Regions from separate parts of the Homo sapiens genome. Here region 2 is linked to region 1. Evidence: fine-mapped expression QTL. A gene starts in region 1. The other region holds a variant in brackets. All regions are shown on one strand. Distances are between the middles of the regions.

What was found. PIP is the estimated chance that this variant, and not a neighbour inherited with it, causes the effect.
Region 2: its variant is fine-mapped to the expression of GAPVD1 in subcutaneous fat (GTEx, PIP 0.94).

What each region holds. Positions count from the first base shown.
Region 1 is chr9:125,255,974-125,266,039 of GRCh38, forward strand. GAPVD1 (GTPase activating protein and VPS9 domains 1) reads left to right here and starts at 5,853. Exons shown (of 28, transcript NM_001282680.3): 1 at 5,853-5,986. It overlaps HSPA5-DT (HSPA5 divergent transcript), which reads left to right. Exons shown (of 3, transcript NR_186826.1): 3 at 991-1,098. It also overlaps the pseudogene RPS10P17. RefSeq lists silencers at 2,168-2,426, 5,750-5,931, 5,870-5,999.
Region 2 is chr9:125,382,807-125,392,872 of GRCh38, forward strand. No RefSeq gene overlaps it. Among named protein-coding and RNA genes, the nearest start is that of GAPVD1, 130 kb to the left of the region's middle. RefSeq lists an enhancer at 7,208-7,947. The variant C/G (reference allele first, on the strand shown) is at 5,049.

The DNA of each region.
Region 1 (10,066 bases):
CTTGAATAGCTGGGATTACAGGTGAGAACCAGTGCACTCGGCCAGCTGATAATTTTAACTCCTTGCTAAATGTTGCAAAGCCATATGACTGTGAATACATTGCTAGGATCTTTGAAGAGTCTCCAGGCAAGTGAGGGGCCCTAAATCATAAGCTCCATCAGCTTCATGGATCTCAGTATTATTATTTCTGAGCCTGCCAGTGGGGGCCAGTGTAGGACCACCAATGACCCAGAACATGGACTGTGGCTATGACGGGAACAAATTAATTGCTCCAAAGTGAAAAGTATTTTTTTAAGGAATACTTTCTACCACCTGGGTCTTACTGGATTTTTTTGCTTGCAGGATTCCTAGAGCTCTAACCTGGGAAACACAGCAAAACCTCATCTCTACAAAAAATAAAAAAGTTAGCCAGGCATGGTGGTGCGTGCATATGATCCCAGGTACTCAGGAGGCTGAGGCAGGAGGATTGCTTGAGCCCTGCCCAGAAAGTAGAGGTTGCAGTGGGCTGTGATTACATCACTGCACTCTAGCCTGGGTGACAGAGAGAGACCCTGTCTCAGAATTAAAAAAAAAAAAAAAAAGCTGGGTGTGGTGGTTCCTGCCTGTAATCCCAGCACTTTAGGAGGACGAGGCAGGAAGATTACTTGAGTCCAGGAGTTTGAGACCAGCCTGGGCAACACAGTGAGATCTTGTCTGTATAAAAAATAAAAAAATTAGCCAGGCACAGTGAAGGGACTTCGCATGTGTGAAGTTCCAGGTACTCTGGAGGCTGAAGTGGGAGGATGGCTTGAGCCAGGGAGGTTGAGGCTGCAGTAAGCAGTGATGGTGTCACTGAGCTTTAGCCTGGGTGAAAGAGCGAGATCCTGTCTCAAAAAGTAAATAAACGATGAAAACTATTTTAGAGTTTTTTAATGGTAAAATTATGATTTCTATTCATGTTATTGCTGTATTTACTTACTGCCTAGTTTATAATTTGCTTGACTCTTCCAGATGTGGCCCTAATCTTTCCACAGTCAAGCGTGTACTACTATTTCACAGCATTTTCCTTTCCAAACTGTGTGCCAAATAAATCGGGGTCTCCAACCCCAGAGCCGTGAACTGGTACCCGTCTGTGGCTTGTTAGGAATGGAGCAGCACAGGATGAAGTGAGTGGTGGGTAAGTGAGCATTACCACCTGAGCTCTGCCTCCTGTCAGATCAGCAATGGCATTAGATTATCATAGGAGTGCGAACCCTATTGTGAACTGCGTATGCAAGGGGTCTAGGTTGTCCACTCCTTATGGGAATCTAATGCCTAATTATCTGAGGTGTAACAATTTCATCCCGAAACCATCCCCCCGACCTCCTCCACCCCCTACCACCATTTCCTGGAAAAACTGTCTTCCACAAAACCAGTCCCTGGTGCCAAAAAGGTTAGGGACTGCTGAAATAAAATCATGTCATAGGTGAAGTCCTTGTTTCTTCCCTTTTGTCTTCCTCTTTCTCTGTAATCTTTATTTCTTATGGCCTGTTTTTCTTTCTGGTATGGTTTGGTCTCACTTAACTCTCATATTTCTTTCTTAAGTGTAGATGTATTGTAACTTAAACAATGTTACTTTTTGGTCTTGATGGATGGCTCACACCTGTAATTCCAGCACTTTGGGAGGCTGAGGTGGGCAGATCACCTGAGGTTGGGAGTTCGAGACCAGCCTGACCAACATGGAGAAACCCCGTCTCTACTAAAAATACAAAATTTGCTGGCGCAGTAGCTCACACCTGTAATCCCAGCACTTTGGGAGGCCGAGGCGGGCAGATCACGAGGTCAGGAGTTCAAGACCAGCCTGGCCAACATAGTGAAACCCTGTCTGAACTAAAAATACAAAAATTAGCCAGGGATGGTGGCGTGCGCTTGTAGTCTCAGCTACTCTGGAGGTTGAGGCAGGAGAATCACTTGAACCTGGGAGGCGGAGGTTATGGTGAGCTGATATCGCGCCATGGCACTCCAGCCTGGGCAACAAGAGCGAAACTCCATAAAAAAAAAAAAAAAAATTAGCCGGGCATGGTGGCCCGAACTGTAATCCCAGCTGTTCGGGAGGCTGAGGCATGAGAATTGCTTGAACCTGGGAGGCGGAGGTTGTGGTAAGCCGAGATCGTGCCATTGTACTCCAGCCTGGGCAATAAGAGCGAAACTCTGTCTCAAAAAAGAAAAAGAAAAAGAAAAATTAGCCAGGCATGGTGGCGTGCACCTGTAATCCCAGCTGAGGATTAGGCATGAGAACTGCTTGATCCCAGGAGGTGGAGGTTGCAGTGAGTTGAGATCATTCCACTGCACTCCAGCCTGGGCAACAGAGTGAGACTCCATCTCAAACAAAACAAAACAAAACAAAACAAAAAACAAACAGGCGAGCCCAGCACAGCGGTGCAAGCCTGTGGTCCCAGGTACTCAGGAAGCTGAGGCATGAGGATCCCTTGAGCCCTCACGATAGCACCTGTGAATAGTTACTGCATTCTAGCCTGGGCAACATAGCAAGACCTATTTCTAAAATAAAAATGTAGACAAATTATTACATTCTAGGCAGTACGCCCAGTGGTGAATAAGATGGAGTCTGCGCCCTCAGGGACTATGTGTTGGTTTAAATTTTCACCTCAAGTTAACATTTGTGATTCAATATAAGTGATGAAGTTTGGGGGCCTTTGAGGGACCTGGGGATAAAGTGTTTTTTTGTCCAGAAATACTTGCCAGAGGCCCCTTAAATCACTTGGCCATAGCATCTGCTTTCTTGGCTTACTTCTAAGACTGGCTGTGTACACATAGAAGGAAAAAGAACATTAAAAAAAATGTTTTGCGATTCTAAGGCAGAGTAGTTTAATAGAGTATGGAGTTGGGAGGCTGAAGAACTAAACTCTACACAAGGTCCAGTATGAATTTTGTGACCATGAACAAGTAACTTCATATCCTTCTATGTCAGGGAAGACTGAGTTGTGTATGGAAAGAAAGGGGCTTTGGACAGAGTTTACTGTGTATTCATCCATTCATTTAAAAAACAAAAAACAAACATTACATTCTAGGCAGTATGCCAGGTTCTAGGGAGACAGTGATCTGCCCTCAGTGAGTACTACTTATTGATTTTGAGCAAATTTTCACCTCTTGAGTTTACTTTCCCATTTGTAAAAGGGATGAAAATAATACCTATTCCATATTTCCCAAGAATCACTGTTGTAGTGATCCATAGTTCTAGCAGGAGATTTGAATTCCTTGAGTGTGCTGACTGGAAAAAAAAAAGAAAATTGCTTGTTAGTTCAAGTTCTTCATTTGTAGGTGACAGAACAGGGCTCAGAAGATTAACTGACCATTCTAGTTCCTTTTTTACTTCTCACATGCAATGCAGCTTCCCTGAAGATTCTTTTGCAACTTTTGGGGCCTCTCCTTCCCTTCCTCCCTGGCCTGGGTGCTCCAGCCTACCCAGACGCAGTGTTCCAGAGCCCACTGTGAATGTGGTTTTGCTAAGGCTGAGTTCTTCCTTAGCAGTCCACGAATGCCATCTCTTGTCTTGAAATCCAGCCATCCAGTAACTCCTAACTGTCACCTCTTCCATAAGGTCATGAACCCTCAACTTGAAAAGGCCATTCTCTCTGAGAATCTCAGAATGCTTTGTACCTTGGCTTATTATGATGATCCTTAATCTGTGGCAGTTTCATCCTACCCTAGATTGTAAATTGTATCCTCTTGCTTATTTCTTTTCTTTTTTTTTTTTTCTTGAGACAGAGTCTCGCTCTGTCGCCCAGGCTGGAGTGCAGTGGCACGATCTCCACTCACTGCAAGCTCCGTCTCCCGGGTTCACGCCATTCTCCTGCCTCAGCCTCCCGTGTAGCTGGGACTACAGGCGCCTGCCACCATGCCCGGCTAATTTTTTGTATTTTTAGTAGAGACAGGTTTCTACCGTGTTAGCCAGGATGGTCTCGATCTCCTGACCTCATGATCCGCCCACCTCGGCCTCCCAAAGTGCTGGGATTACAGGCGTGAGCCACTGCGCCCGGCCTCCTCTTGCTTATTTCATGCCAGCGGTGCATTGAGTAATGTCTTGTAACAGAGCTGATTGAATTCCTGAATGAGTTGAATGGCAGCACGATAGCAATAACATCTGACCAGCCTACCATAGGTGGTTCTATTACTACCTATGTAGTCATAAAACAAGGCAATAAATATGAAGCAATTCTGTCAATGTTGTTGTTGCTGTTTTGTTTTGAGACAGGTTTCACTCTGCTGCCCAGGATGGAGTTCAGTGGCATGATCACAGCTCACTGCAGCCTTGACCTTTTTGGGCTTGGTGATCCTCCCACTTCAGCCTCCCTAGTAGCTGGGACTACAGGTGCAAGCCACCATGCCTCGCTGATTTTTGTATTTTTTGTAGAGTTGGGGTTTCACTATGTTGCTCAGGCTGGTCTTGAACTTCTGGGCTCAAGCAATCCTCCTGCCTTGGCCTCGCAAAGTGCTAGGATTATAGGCATATGCCACCATGCCCCTAAAGGTGACATCAAGAGAGGTGAGTAGATAGAAAGCAGTTTGGGAGTTGATTGACATTTGAAATAGCTGGGGAAATGATTATTACTTTTTTCCTTTTTTTGCCTGGAGACTCCCAGTATTGGAGGATATAATCATTGTTCTCAATTTTTTGAAGATCTGTCAAGTGGAAGACATTCTGTATTGCTCCAGGCAGCCTAACTACCAGCAATGGAAGGAAATAAAGGGAAACAGATTTCAGCTCAGCAGGAGGCAGAACTTTCTAACATTTAGAGCTGTCCAACAGTGGAGCAGGCTGCATTACTTGAGGGAGTGAGCTCCCTGAAATTTGAACTGTTGAACAGGAAGATGACCATCTGGCTGAATGTACAGGAGGGAATTCCTGCCTGGGCAACAGTTGCACTAGTGACCTTTAAGCAGGTATCTTCCAATTTTAAGGTTTCTAGACTGTTCAACTCAGCTAACTTGACCTCTGAATATATGAGTTATGGTGTTACAAAAATTATTAGACAGTTCATTTATTGACTTACCTAAAATAACTGCATGGTGAAGTTTATGATAAGCAAGATTTTAGAAACTGAGAAGTGGGAAGGCAGGTTTTACACTGAAAATCCAGATACCATCCAAACCAATTAATGGCACTTAGAACAAAAGGGAAGGGAGGGGCCGGCAGCGGTGGCTCACGCCTGTAATCCCAGCACTTTGGGAGGCCGAGGCGGGCGGATCACGAGGTCAGGAGATCGAGACCATCCTGGCTAACACGGTGAAACCTCGTCTCTACTAAAAATCAAAAAATTAGCCGGGCGTGGTGGCGGGCGCTTGTAGTTCCAGCTACTTGGGAGGCTGAGGCGGGAGAATGGCGTGAACCCGGGAGGCGGAGCTTGCAGTGAGCCGAGATTGAGCCACTGCACTCCAGCCTGGGCGACAGAGCCAGACTCCGTCTCGAAAAAAAAAAAAAAAGGGAAGGGAGGTTTGTAAGTAGTGTGTGCGTACGTGTGAGAGAGAAACAGAGAAGAGAGAGAGTCATTCATGCGAATAATGTGTCCTGGGCAACTGAGCGTTGTCACAGAAAGCATAAAACGCTCTACATTTTTGCTTTACACATACTTGCTCAGTCGGATTCTTCACGTCCAGCATTACTGCAGGCGGAAACCAGGGCCCAGGCCTGGTGAACAGCCTTCCGGAAGACGATTCCGGACCCGGACACCCACGACAGCCTCAGGGGGCAGCTGACCTAGGGCTGCCTAAGGCGGAAGTGGGAGCCCCTAGCCGCCCGGGCGGAACTACAGCTCCCAGAGGCCCCCGCGGCGCTGCGCACGCGCGCTGGCGTGGCGGCAGCGCCGCTGCAGGACGCAGGGAAGCCAACAGGCGAGTGGCGAAGGTGGCGGCAGCGGCGGCGGGGGCAGTCACCGGCTAGGGCGACGGCTCCGAGGCCGAGTGGCGGTCCGACAGAGTCCTCCGTGTCCTCCCCCGCATGACCCCCTTGGTGAGTACGCGTCCCGATTTAGTCCGCGGGCTGTGAGCGGCTCCCTGCCTCGCGGCCGGGTTGCTCCGGCCTAGGGCCGCAGCCTGTCTCTGACTGCCCGGCCGTCAGGTCCAACTGACCCCGGGGTCCTGGGCTCTTCCCGTCAGTGTCGGGCGAGGTGGGGGTCGGGGGACACTGGGTTAGACCCAGGGGAGAGATGTGGCGGCGCGCAGGAGCCAGGGCGGCCTGGGGCTGAGGAGAGGGAGAGACGCGTGGGGGATGGGATGGGAAGGGACAGGAGGACCGCGGGGCGGCCTCGGGTGGGGGCCAGAGACGAGAGGCCCGGCAGGTAGGGAACTGAGTATAGGAGGCGAGAACGAAATGGAATGTCTTCTGAGTGTCGCTGATAAAGATATCGTGCTGCAGGGAAGCTTGACAAGCTGGACACACGGGTCTGGGGGCAGCCCACCTAACACAGACACTCACTGTACTTGGCATCTTTCCACTTGCTGTCGGAGGTCTGAAAGTGAGGGAGCTGTTGGTTGTTTCCATCCCTTTTCTTTTAACTTCACCTTTTATTGACTGGCAAAATTGTAGTGAGTGCTGGCTAGGCAAACCACAGAAGTACACCCAGGGTTCTGTGTATAAATGTGCATAAAAACAGGGAGACATAGTGATAGGTTCAGATGAGAACTAGGTCAAAGGAGGAATCAGTGTTTTTATTTTTAAATTTATGACGAAAATCAGTTCTGAGCAGGACTTTGAACTAGAGAGGGGTTTTAAACTGGAGTTCATTGATGGATAGAATTAGAAGGGTCCTTTCACTAGAAGGAGGATAAAATGACATCATTATTTTTATTGACTGCTAACTGAAACTTATTATTTCCTTCAGTTACGAATGTGGACAACAAGCCAGAGTAGCATTAGCAGCGCCTATGACTTTGTGATCAATAAAAATTACGGATATTTTTGCATCATGTTTACAGTTGCAGATAGCTCAGAATATCATTTATGGTTAACACTTCTTTGAATTTCTGGTGTTACTAGACCCGCCGTTAGACATTGTTATTTAATGTGATAATAAGGCTGTACATATATTATGACCATATTAGTTTGTTGTTTTGCTAATATTTCCATATAATTGGTTTCCCTTGTAATCACATGTATTTAATTATGCACTTAAAAGAAATCTGAGAAAGGGACCATAGGCTTCACCAAACTGCCAATGAGGTCCGTGCACAAAAAGATTAAGAACTCCTGAAATAATTTGGGAGGCCGAGGCGGGCGGATCATTGAGGTCAAGAGATCGAGACCATCCTGGCCAACATGGTGAAACCCCATCTCTACTAAAAATACAAAAATTAGTTGGGTGTGGTGGCCCATGCCTGTAATCCCAGCTACTTGGGAGGCTGAGGCAAGAGAATCACTTGAGCCCGGGAGGTGGATATTGCAGTGAGCCAAGATCACGCCACTGCACTCCAGCCTGGCAACAGAGCGAGACTCCGTCTCAAAAAACAAAACAAAACAAAAAAACTCCTGAAATAGAAATAAGGTTTTTTGGATTTATAAGTCTACTTAGAAGAACTGTTGTTTTTTTTTTTTTGGTTGTAAGTTTATTCAATGCAAAAGAATCCTCTCCAATTTTACTGAGGTGGCTGACCACGTCCACGACCAAATCCGTCTCAACTGGAATTTGGCTGCTGACCCAGCCCCAGCCTCAGCTTTCTTGTCGGCACTAAGTGGCACAGCACTCCATCTGTAGGTATGTCTGTCAGCACTCCATCTGTAGGTATGTCTGTCAGCTTCCCCTCTTGTGAGTCTCGCAGGTCACTCACCCTCCAGACCTTTAGGCTGAGGCCTGCCGGTCTCTGGACAGCTATGGCGTAGGGTAGCAGGTACAGTCTCCGGGGGGCAGATGAAGGTAATCCCGGAGATACTGGATACCCTCATTGGTAAGGTACCAGTAGAAATGTCTCCAGGCAAACTGTTCCTTCATGTAGCCTTGAGACTTGAGAGACTGCATGGCCTTCATGACATGAAGGTTGGGCACGTTCTTGTCTGCCAGCTCTGGGTGCTTAGGCATGTGGACATCCTTCTTGGCCACCATGACTCCCTCCTTAAAAAGGAGTTCATAAATGGCAATCTGGTTCTTTAGAAGAACATTTGAATCATTGAAGGCAGACAGGATGACAGTGTAGACGAAAGAGAATTTCATAATCAGGGAGATAAAAAATTTGGATGGGATCAGGGTAGTCTTTTGTTTTGTTTTGTTTTGAGACGGAGTCTGGCTCTGTTGCCTAGGCTGGAGTGCAGTGGCATGATCTCCGCTCACTGCGACCTCAGCTTCCTGGGTTCAAGCGATTCTTGTGCCTCAGCTTCCTGAGTAGCTGGGACTACAGACACCAGCCACCACGCCTGGATAATTTTTATATTTTTAGTAGAGGCAAGGTTTCACCATGTTGGTCAGGCTGGTCTCAAAGTCCTGACCTCAGGTGATCTGCCTGCCTCGGACTCCCAAAGTGCTGGGATTACTGATGTGAGCCACCGCGTCCTGCCCAGAGTAGTCATTTTGAAAGAATAGACCATAGATATTTCATTCAGGGTAATGGGGAATGAACAAAATAATCGGAAGAAGAAAGAAAAGTGAATATGTTGGCCTTTAAATTTTTGTATTAAGGCACCTCCCCACTTCCAAGGGATTGCAGCTCTGTAAGCTCTAATGTAAGCCTGAGAAAAGAAATTTTACTGTTTGCTGGTTTTCTTTAAATCATGGAGGTGGATTTTTTTTTTTTTTTTCTGAGATGGAGTCTCAGGCTGTCGCCCAGGCTGGAGTGCAGTGGCGCGATCTCAGCTCACTGCAAGCTCTGCCTACCGGGTTCATGCCATTCTCCTGCCTCAGCCTCCCAGGTAGCTGGGACTACAGGTGCTGCCACCATGCCTGGCTAATTTTTGTATTTTTAGTAGAAACGGGGTTTCACCATGTTGGTCAGGCTGGCCTCGAACCTCCTGACCTTAAGTGATCTGCCCGCCTTGGCCCCCCAGAGTGCTAGGATTATTGGCGTGAGCCACCGCGCCTGGCCATCTTACATTTTTTAAAAGACAAAAAATTATTTCCCAGCACTATGTTGTGCTTTTGTGAGCATTTGGTTTCATATGGGGACTAATCATTCTTAGTACATGCTGCCATATAGGTTTGATTATTCATCATTTTGTATGAGGTAATAAAAGGGAAAGTCTGTAAGTGAAGTTCTTGTTTTGCTGAGGTTCTTTTACCTTTTACTGTGTGATCCTAGGTTGTTTTATTTCTCTTCATTCTTCTTCCTTCTTTCTTCTTCCTTCTTTTTTTTTGAAACAAGGTCTTGCTGCATTGCCCAGGCTGGACTTGAACTCCTGGACTTGAGTGATCCTCCTGCCTCAGCCTTACCAAGTAGCTAGGACTATAGGTCGGCACCACCACACCTGGCATTGTTTCTTTTTCTGTTCTTCTTTCTGAGAGGGAGTCTTACTTGTCTCCCAGGCTGGAGTGCAGTGGTGTAATCTTGGCTCACTGAAACCTCTGCCTCCCGGGTTCCAGCGATTCTCCTGCCTCAGTCTCCCTCCTGGGCTGGGACTACAGGCGGGTGCCACGATGGCTGGCTAATTTTTGTATTTTTTTGTAGAGACGGGGTTTCACCATATTGGCCAGGCTGGTCTTGAACTCCTGACCTCGTGATCTGCCCACCTCGGCCTCCCATAGTGCTGGGATTACAAGTGTGAGCCACCGCGCCCGGCCAAAAAAAAAATTTCATGTCTGACGATATCAAATGTTGGTGAAGATGTGGCAAAAATGGTAATTTTGAAACTACTGGCCAGGCGTGGTAGCTCATGCCTATAATTTTAGCACTTTTGGAGTTTGAGGGCCACTTGAGTCCTTGAACCCGGGAGTTCAAGACCAGCCTGGGCCTCAAAGTGAGACCCCTGTCTCTATTAAAAAAGAAAAAATTTATAAAAAAAAAAAAAAAAAGAAACTGCTACCGGTTACTGTTAGGAGGAGGAAAAAAAAACTGTTGGTTGAGTGTAAACTGGTATAGCTGCTTTTGAAGACAGTATTTGCAGCCCTTA
Region 2 (10,066 bases), 130 kb after region 1:
TGTCTTTTTACTTTCTGGAAAATTTTCTTTTTTTTTTTTTTTTGAGACAGAGTCTCACTCTGTTGCACAGTGGTGCGATCTTGGCTCATTGCAGCCTCTGACTCCTGGGTTCAAGCGATTCTCGTGCCTCAGCCACAGGAGCAGCTGAGATTACAGGCATGCGCCACCATGCCTGGCTAATTTTAGTATTTTTAATAGAGACGAGGTTTCACCATATTGGCCAGGCTGGTCTCAAACTCCTGACCTCAAGTGATCCAGCCACCTCGGCCTCCCAAAGTGTTGGAATTACAGGCAGGAGCCACTGCACCTGGCCACCAATTTTTTTCTTTGTGCTTTTGGTATTGTAGCAAAGAAACCCAAGGTCACAAGGGTTTTCTTCTGTATTTTCTTCTAGAAGTTTTGTAGTTTTAGGTTTTACATTTATGTCCATGAGCTTCTTGGATCTGTTATTTGATGTCTTTCATTAATTTTGGAAAATTTATGGCGTTTTATAATTTTTTACTTTTATTAATATAGAGATGGGGTCTCGCTATGTTGACCAGGCTGGTCTCAATGTCCTGGCCTCAAGCGACCCTCACATCTCAGCCTCCTACAGTGCTAGGATTACAGGCATGAGCCACTGCTCCTGGCCTGGCGTTTTAAATTTAAATATTTCTTCCATCCATCTGATCCTTTTCTTCTTCTGGGATTCTAATTACATATATTTTTTAAGACTGTTTTATATTGTCTCCTAACTTTAGGATGCTCTGTTCTGTTTCTGTGTTTTTTTCCCTCCCCTATTTTTTTCTTCTTTTTTTTCCTTAGAGACAGGGTCTCACTCTGTCACCTAAGCTGGAATGCAGGGGCACAATCATAGCTCTCTGTGGTCTCAAACTCTTGGGCCCCAATGATCCTATGGCCTTGGCCTCCCAAGTAGCCAGGACTACAGACATGCACCACCATGCCCGGCTAATTTTTAAAAATTGTTTTGTATAGATACAGGGTCTCACGATGTTGCCCAGGCTGGTCTCAAGCTCCCGGCCTGTAGCAATCCTCCTACCTCAGCCTCCTAAAGTGCTGGGATTACAGGCATAAGCCACTGCTCGTGGCCTAGGTTCACTGATTACTTCCCCAGCTATGCTGAGTCTTTTGATGAGCCTGTCAACATCATTCTCTTTTACTGTGACTTTCATTTCTAGCATTTTATTTATTCTTTCCTATAGTTTCCATCTCTTTAATGAAATTCCCCAACTGTGGGTACATGCTACTCACCTTTTCTCCCATTGCCTTTAACATATTAATCATAATTATTAAAATTCCCTAAAAGTTCCAACATCTGGGTCATATCTCAGTCTGATTTTGTTGATTGCTTTATCCCTTGACGGTGTGTTGCTTTTCTTGCTTCTTTGTGTGTCTCGTATTTTTTTGATTGAAAGCTGGGATCTTGTATAGGATAGTAGAGACTGAGGTAAATAGCATTTACACCTGAAAATGGGCTTACTTCTTCTATTTTTTTTTTAAGCAGTGTTTTGCTCTGTTGCCCAGGCTGAAGTGCAGTGGTACAATCACAGCTCACTGCAGCCTTGAACTCCTGAGCTCAAGTAATCTGCTGCCTCAGCCTCCTGAGTAGCTGGAACTACAGGCATATTCCACGTGCCTGGCTAATTTATTTATATTTTGTAGAGACAGGGTCTTGCTATGTTGCCCAGGCTGGTCTTGAACTCCTGGCCTCAGGTGGTCCTTCTACCTCAGCCTCCCAAAACACAGCTGCATGGCATAGAGATGGGGCCATCACATGGTGAAACCCCATCTCTGCTGAAAATACAAAAATTAGCTGGGCATGGTGGCGGGCGGCTGTAATCCCAGCTACTTGGGTGGCTGAGGCAGGAGAATCGCTTGAACCTGGGAGGCGGAGGTTGCAGTAAGCTGAGATTGCGCCACTGTACTCCAGCCTGGGCGACAGAGCAGGACTGTCAAAAAAAAAAAAAACACCAAAAAACAACAGGTGTGAGCCCCTGTGCCTGGTTAATGCTGCTGCTTTTGCCAGGCCCTTCAGGTAGGGAGCTGGTCAGTCTAGCCAGGAGTTAAGCTGGCTTTGGGGTTTGGTGTTGCTCTGTTGCCCTCAGGGCCCCACAGTTCTCTAGCATCACTTTGCTTAACTAACAACATCGAGCATCTCCTCATGTGCTTATTTACCATACATGTATCTTCTTTGATGTAATGTATTAGTCAAATCTTTTTTTTTTTTTTCTTTTTTGAGACAGGATCTTGACCTCTTGGTCTCAAGTGATCCTCCAGCCTCCCAAAGTGCTGGGATGGCAGGTGTGAGCCACCACACCCAGCCTATTCAAATCTTTTGCCCATTTTTCTTTCTCAGATTGCTTGACATTCCTCTAATATCACTAAGTGTTTAGAGTGGGGCCTGACTTGCTAGAAGGTTTTTTCCCAATGTCCGATCCACTCTCAGTTTTTTTTTTTTTTTTTCTTTTTGAGATGGAGTCTCGCTCTGTCACCCAGGCTGGAGTACAGTGGCGTGATCTCGGCTCACTGCAACCTCTGCCTCCTGGGTTCAAGCAATTCTCCTGCCTCAGCCTCCTGAGTAGCTGGGATTACAGGCACGTGCCACCACGTCTGGCTAATGTTTTGTATTTTTAGTGGAGACGGGGTTTCACCATGTTGGCTAGGCTGGTCTCGAACTCCTGATCTCGGCCTCCCAAAGTGCTGGAATTACAAGAGTGAGCCACCGCACCCAGCCTACCCTCAGTTTTAGGTCTTCTCTTTGCATTTGCTCCCAAGAGAGCATCTCTCCCTGCATTCTTGCCTTTCCCCCAGCAGTAGACCCACAACTGTAACTTGTTATTAGTGATTTTAAGCCTTTTTTATGTTTTTTTTTTTTTTTTTTTTTTTTGCGGGGATGTTGGCGAGCTGGAATGGCATTCTCCATTATTCTGGGTCAGCTCCAGTTTTAGGCAGGAGCTGGGTCTCAGAGCTCCTTCTCCTCCCCCAGTAGCAGATGAGATCTAATAGTCTGAGCCCAGGATGTATTTCTGCCCTTCCCCTAAAATTAAGAGGGTTTTTCTGTTTGATTCCCTCACCTGCAGTGGGTCTTCCTCTGTGCCTTGAGGGCTTTTCCCACCTTGACCCCACTGCTTAAGTCTTTTGTCCCATAAAGGAGAGAATGGAAATAGAGACAGTGAGTGGAGCTTCGTGCTTTCTTGCAGGGACTGCAGGAGGCTTTCTCAGACCTCTTGCCCTGCCCCAACCTTTCTTATGAGCACCTGGTGATGTACCTAGAGAAGAACCTGAGAGTGGGTAAAAATTCTCCTTGTGTCTGCAGCTCCTGGAGATTCTATACTTCACAGTAGCTCGCACTCCACATTTAGCAAGTTGTTAAAATTTTTAGCTGCTGTTTGAGTCCATTTTCTGCTGCTATAACAGAATGCCATAGACTGGGTAATTTATAAAGAACAGAAATTTATTGGCACATGGTTCTGGAGGCTGGGAAATCCAAGATCAAAGGACCAGCATCTGGCAAGGGCCTTCTGGCTGTGTCATCCCATGGCAGAAGTGCAGAGAGGGCAAGAGAGAGCAAAAGGAGCCAAACTTATCCTTTCTTCTTTTATTATTATTATTTTTTGAGACGGAGTCTCGCTCTGTCACCCAGGCTGGAATGCAGTGGCCCAATCTCGGCTCACTGCAAGCTCCACCTCCCGGGTTCACGCCACTCTCCTGCCTCAGCCTCCTGAGTAGCTGGGACTACAGGTGCCCGCCACCACGCCCAGCTAATTTTTTGTATTTTTAGTAGAGACGGGGTTTCATTGTGTTAGCCAGGATGGAAACTTACCCTTTTATAAGAAACCCACTCCAGGCCAGGCATGGTGGCTCATGCCTGTAATCCCAGCACTTTTGGAGGCCAAGGTGGGTGGATCACCTGAGGTCAAGAGTTTAAGAACAGCCTGGCCAACATGGTGAAACCCCGTCTCTACTAAACCTACAAAAATTAGCCAGGCATGGTGTTAGACACCTGTAATCCCAGCTACTTGGGAGGCTGAGGCAGGAGAATTGTTTGAACCTGGGAGGCAGAGGTTGCTGTGAGCCGAGATCACGCCACTGCACTCCAGCCTGGGTGACAGATAAAGACTCTGTCTCAAAAAAAAAAAAAAAAAAAAAAAAAGAAACCCACTCCAGCAATAATGAACCCGCGCCTGTGATGAGGCAATGGGAGGTGGAGGCCACCTCAGGAGGGGGCACTAAAGGGTCTCAGGGCACTGAAGGGTCTCCAGGCACAGGGACAACGTCTGGCTCTTCACTCAGAACTGGATCTGGGAGCTGAGCACAGTAGCTCATGCCTGTAATCCCAGCACTTTGGGAGGCTGAGGTGGGTGGATCACCTGAGGTCAGGAGTTCGATGCCAGCCTGGCCAACATGGTGAAACCCCATCTCTACTAAAAATACAAAAATTACCCGGGCGTGGTAGCATGCACCTGTAGTCCCAGCTACTTGGGAGGCTGAGAGAGGAGAACTGCTTGAGCCCGGGAGGCGGAGGTTGTGGTGAGCCGAGATCGCACCACTGCACTCCAGCCTGGGCGAGAGAGCAAGACTCCCTTTCAAAACAAACAAACAAACAAACAAACACAAAACAAAACAAAACAAAAAAACAAAAACCTTGATCTGGGAATTCAAAGCCCTGAGCTCATCTCTTTTTCTCATTAGTTTTCCAGTGCACTTAGAGGCAACCAAGTGACCCCACAGTCCCTGTGCCCTTTATTTCCACCCACACATTTGATGCCAGTAGTGACTTGGTCACCCGAGCCCTCTGTGGGCCTTGGGTCCAGGGGTTATGTAACTGCTCCACTACTGTGTGCCATGGAGCCCCAGTGTAGTCCCCGGCAGCAGGATCTGAACACCTCTAAATCCACTGAGATTGGAGAACTGATGCTGAGTTCCCATCCTTAAGATTCTCTTCTCCTGGAAGCATCACCAGTACCAACCACTGTATCACTCGGGGTTCAATCAGGGAAGCAAAGCCACTGCGGGTATTATGGGATGCAGATTCATTATGGGGATGG[C/G]CTGACACGATTATGGGAGGAGCTGGAGGTGAAGGCCCAGAGGGGACACGGGGGGTCAGAGCTGACACCTCCCAGCGATCTGAGAAGCCAGGTGTGTCTGGCTGCCAGAAGGGATGTGGGGGACGCTCCTGGAGGGTCCCCTGGGAGCTATTGCCTCTGTGTAGCTGCTGCCTCTGTGAGTTCTTTGGGGAGCCTCTGGGGTGGGCCTGGGGCCACTGCTGGTCAGCAGGCCAGCAGTCAGGAAGACCAAGCGCAGGGTGGAGAACGGCGAGGACAAGCTGGAGCCCCCCAGGCCACTGGGTCTGCCTGTCACCATGGCTGCCTCCTGTGACCTTCAGAGAGCAAAGGTCACTGCTTCCCTTCCAATTTCAAAAGCTCCTATGCAGGAAGCACAGAGGGAGGCCTTCTGGGAAACTCGCCTCTCAGCCTCACCAGGTTGGCTTGGCCCCATTGACGTCTCCCTCCCGCCAATCTGCAGGCTGGGTCAGGATCCTCCCAGGCCTTCGCCCCTCCCAGCACCTCCTCCCCAGCTGACTAAGATGCTGGGGTGGGTCTATTCTATTCAACATGGGTGTGACCAGCCATTAGCACAAGCTTGGAACAGAGCAGCGCTCAATGTGTGTTTGGCAAATGGACGGGTGAATGGAGGACGGGATGATGCCTGCTTGGTGCCAGGCCCTGGGCTGGGCGCAACGAACACAGAAAAGTCAGGGAGGAGGTTTGCTGCTGCCAGAGTTGTGGCCTGTACTTATTCTCTGCAGGGCATTTGGCTAAAGGCTGGGGCCGCGGGAGGAAGGTGGAGATAAGCCGAGCCCCCAACAGCTGGGACATGCCTGGATGAATGTGTTCAGGGCCTCAGACAAACCCAGTGAGAGACCAGGCTGGAAGCGCAGGGCAGGTGAGGCCACTACTGGCCAGTGACTTGCGGAGGACTTCCTGCAGCAGGTGGCATGGGGAGGCTGGAACAGGTGGACCCCTGTGGTGGGGCAGGTGCATGCCAGACAGAGGGTGCTTCAATATATGTGTCCCTGCAAAATTTAGATGTTGGGGCTGGGCACAGTGGCTCACATCTGTAATCCTAGCACTTTGGGAGGCGGAGGTGGGTGGATCACCTGAGGTCAGGACTTTGAGACCAGCCTGGCCAACATGGTGAAACCACGTGTCTACTAAAAATACAAAAATTAGCCAAGTAGTAGTGGCATGCTACTACCAGAACAGAATGTGTAACCAAGAGATATAAGCAGAAACCTAGGTCCCAAGTCCACTCTGCTCCAGGCTCAGCCCCTCTGGTCCATTCTCCACAGGCGGCAGGGCCTGCCTGTAAATCCTCCATGGTCCCCCGTGGCCCTCGGGAGGTGGTCCAGCCTCCTCCACGTGACTGCCCCTCTCTCACCTCCTAGCCTTCCACGTGCTGCCCCTCTGTCCTCCCACCCTACCTGCTCCTCCTCAGAGCAGCCTTTCTTGACTCTCTGCCTTGGTCAGGGCCCCCCTGTGCTCCCCAACTTGCCACTCATGGCCCAGTGTCCTGGGACGGTCCCTGTGGCCTGGCTGGACTCTAGGTGGGGGTCTTACACTGTGCGTGCTGGGGGTCTGGAGAGGAGAGGAAAGTGCAGCCACGCAGAGCTGAGAAGGGAAAGGTTGGGGGTGCCTCTCAGGGCCAAACTCTCCTTCCAGATCATTCCTTTTTTCTCTTTTCTTTTTTTTGAGACAGAGTCTTGCTCTGTCACCCAGGCTGGAGTGCAGTGGCGCGATCTCAGCTCACTGCAACCTCTGCCTCCTGGGTTCAAGGGATTCTCCGGCCCCAGCCTTCCGAGTAGCTGGGATTACAGGCACGCGCCATCATGCTCAGCTAATTTTTTGTGTGTGTTTAGTAGAGCGGGGGTTTCGCCATGCTGGCCGTGCTGGTCTTGAACTCCTGACCTCAAGTGATCAGCCTGCCTCGGCCTCCCAAAGTGCTGGGATTACAGGCGTGAGCCACCGTGCCCAGCCCAGATCATTATTGATTTAGGGATTTCCTTGGCTCTGCCTGGGAACAGTTTTCGTGTGACAAACCCAGTTTAGAAATGGCCAGTGAGAATGGTGGCCATCAGCAGGTCCCCATCTTGTACCCATGGCAGGAGAGGAAAGAGAAGTCTCCATGCCCTGCCTTCCTAGATCCTGCTAGCGGGCCTGAGGCTGCACGTGTGGCCTTTCTTTCTTTCATTTTTTTTTTAGATGGGGTCTCCTACTGTTGCTCAAGCTGGAGTGCAGTGGCATGATCACAGGTCACTGTAGCCTCCACCTCCCAGGCTCAAGCAATCCTCCCACCCAAGTAGCTGGGACTACAGGTGCATGCCACCATGCGTGGCTAATATTTAAATTGTATTTTATTTTTCATCAAGTCAGTGCATTTTATTTTATTTTTTAAATTGTTCCTTTTCATTTTTTAATTTTTAATTTTTGGGGGTGTAGTGTAGGTGTATATATTAAATATTTCTGGGGCACACGAGATATTTTAACAGATGCATGCAATGAGTACTAATCACAGCAGGGTAAATGGGGTATCCATCCCCTCAGGCATTTATCCTTTGTGTTACAAACAATCCAATTATACTCCTTTAGTTATTTTAAAATGTCACTTAGGGTAGACGTGGTGGCTCATGCCTGTAATCCCAGCACTTTGGGAGGCCGAGGCAGGCAGATTACCTGAGGTCAGGAGCTCAAAACCAGCCTGGCCAACATGGTGAAACCCCAACTCTACTAAAAATACAAAAATTAGTCAGGCATGGGGTGCGCGCACCTGTAGTCCCAGCTACTTGGGAGGCTAAGGTGGGAGAATTTCTTGAACCCGGGTGGCAGAGGTTGCAGTGAGCCGAGATCAAGCCATTGCACTCCAGCCTGGAAGACAGAGCAAGACTCCGTCTCAAAAAGATAATAAATCGGCCAGGCGCTGTGGCTTATGCCTATAATCCCAGCACTTTGGAAGGCGGAGGTGGACGAGTCACCTGAGACCAGGAGTTCAAGACCAGCCTGGCCAACATGATGAAACCTAGTCTCTACTAAGCAAACAAACAAACAAACAAACAAAAATTAGCTGGGTGTGGTGGCACATGCCTGTATTCCCAGCTACTAGGGAGGCTGAGACAGGAGAATTACTTGAACCCGGAAGATGGAGGTTACAGTGAGCTGAGATCATGCCACTGTACTTCAGCCTCAGCGACACAGAGAGACTCTGTTTCAAAAAAAAAAAAAAATAGGCTGGGCGCAGTGGCTCACACCTGTAATCCCAGCACTTTGGGAGGCCAAGGCGGGTAGATCACCTGAGGTCGGGAGTTCGAGACCAGCCTGACCAACATGGAGAAACCCTGTCTCTACTAAAAATACAAAATTAGCCAGGCGTGGTTGGACATGCCTGTAATCCCAGCTACTGGGGAGGCTGACGCAGGAGAATTGCTTGAACCTGGGAGGCGGAGGTTGCAGTGAGCCAAGATCATGCCATTGCATTCCAGCCTGGTAAAAAAAGTGAAACTCCATCTAAAAAGAGAAAAAGATTACCCTCCCTCCAGCCTGGGTGATAGAGCAAGACTCCATCTCAAAAAAAAAAAAAAAAAAAAATTACCCTCCCTTTTGACCCAGCAATTCCACAACTAGAAATTTACCCCTAGAAATAATTTGGCAAATGCAAAAAAAAAAAAAAAATGTGCACAAGGATGTTCATATAGTGGTGAGGTTGGTGGTGTTTATGAGGGCAAACAATTGGAAGTTGCCAAGATGACCAACAATGGGATTAGAAGAGTAAAGGGTACACAGTCAGGGCTCTGGACATTCTTGAGTAAATGACTGAAATTGTGCTTCCACTTATTTTATTCTCATACATGTCATCCTCATGACCTTAGATGTGAGCCCTGTTATTATCTCCACTTTCCAGATGAAGGAACAAAGGCTCAGAGAAGGGCACAGACTACTGGTGGCAGGGCCAGAACTCATCCTCAGCTGGATCTGATACCAGGACCCGATAAACAAAGGAAGCCAGGAGTCTGAGTACGAATAAAGGAAATCAGGGAGAAGCCTCCAGCGAGTCATTCCTTTGCTTATTGCCTTTATGAAGCTCTCACCCCCAGGCATGCTCTGTGCTCACAATGGCAGCCATTGCTGCGAATCCTTTTTTTTTTTTTTTTTTTTTGAGAGAGTCTTACTCTGTCCCCCAGGCTGGAGTGCAGTGGTGCAATCTCAGCTCACCGCAACCTCCGCCTCCCAGGTTCAAGTGATTCTCCTGCCTCAGCCTCCCAAGTAGCTGGGATTACAGGCGCCCACAACCATGCTTGGCTAATTTTTGTATTCTTAGTAGAGATGGGGTTTCGCCATGTTGGCCAGGCTGGTCTCGAACCCCTGACCTCAGGTGATTCACTTGCCTCGGCCTCCCAAAGTGCTGGGATTACAGGCGTGAGTCACCGTGCCTGGCCCTCGAATACTCTTACTTTTCCTGAAAGGGAAGAGGGCAGCTGTCCCAGGCCCCAGGCCTCACTCTCATAAGCAGTAGGATATGGTGGTCATGAAGGCAGACTCTGGCGCCATGGTGCCTGGGCTCAAATCCCAGCTCTACCACTTACTAGTGGTGGATCTTGGACAAGTGACTTAACCTCTCTTGGCCTCAGTTTCCCCATTTGTAAAATGGGGATAATAACAATAATACCTACCTCATAGGGTTGTTGTGAAGGTTAAATAAATATTTGTAAAGAACATAGAGCCGTGCCCAGAACATAGTATGCCCTGTATCAGTATTTGTTTTTTAAAAAAAATACACACACACAGTGCACATGCATATATAATCATTATGAAAATATTTGAGAGGCAGGCAGAGTGGCTCATGCCTGTAATCCCACCACTTTGGGAGGCTGAGGTGGGTGGATCGCCTGAGGTCAGGAGTCCGAGACCAGCCTGATCAACATGGAGAAACCCCGTCTCTACTAAAAATACAAAATTAGCCGGGCGTGGTGGCACATGCCTGTAATCCCAGCTACTCAGGAGGCTGAGGCAGG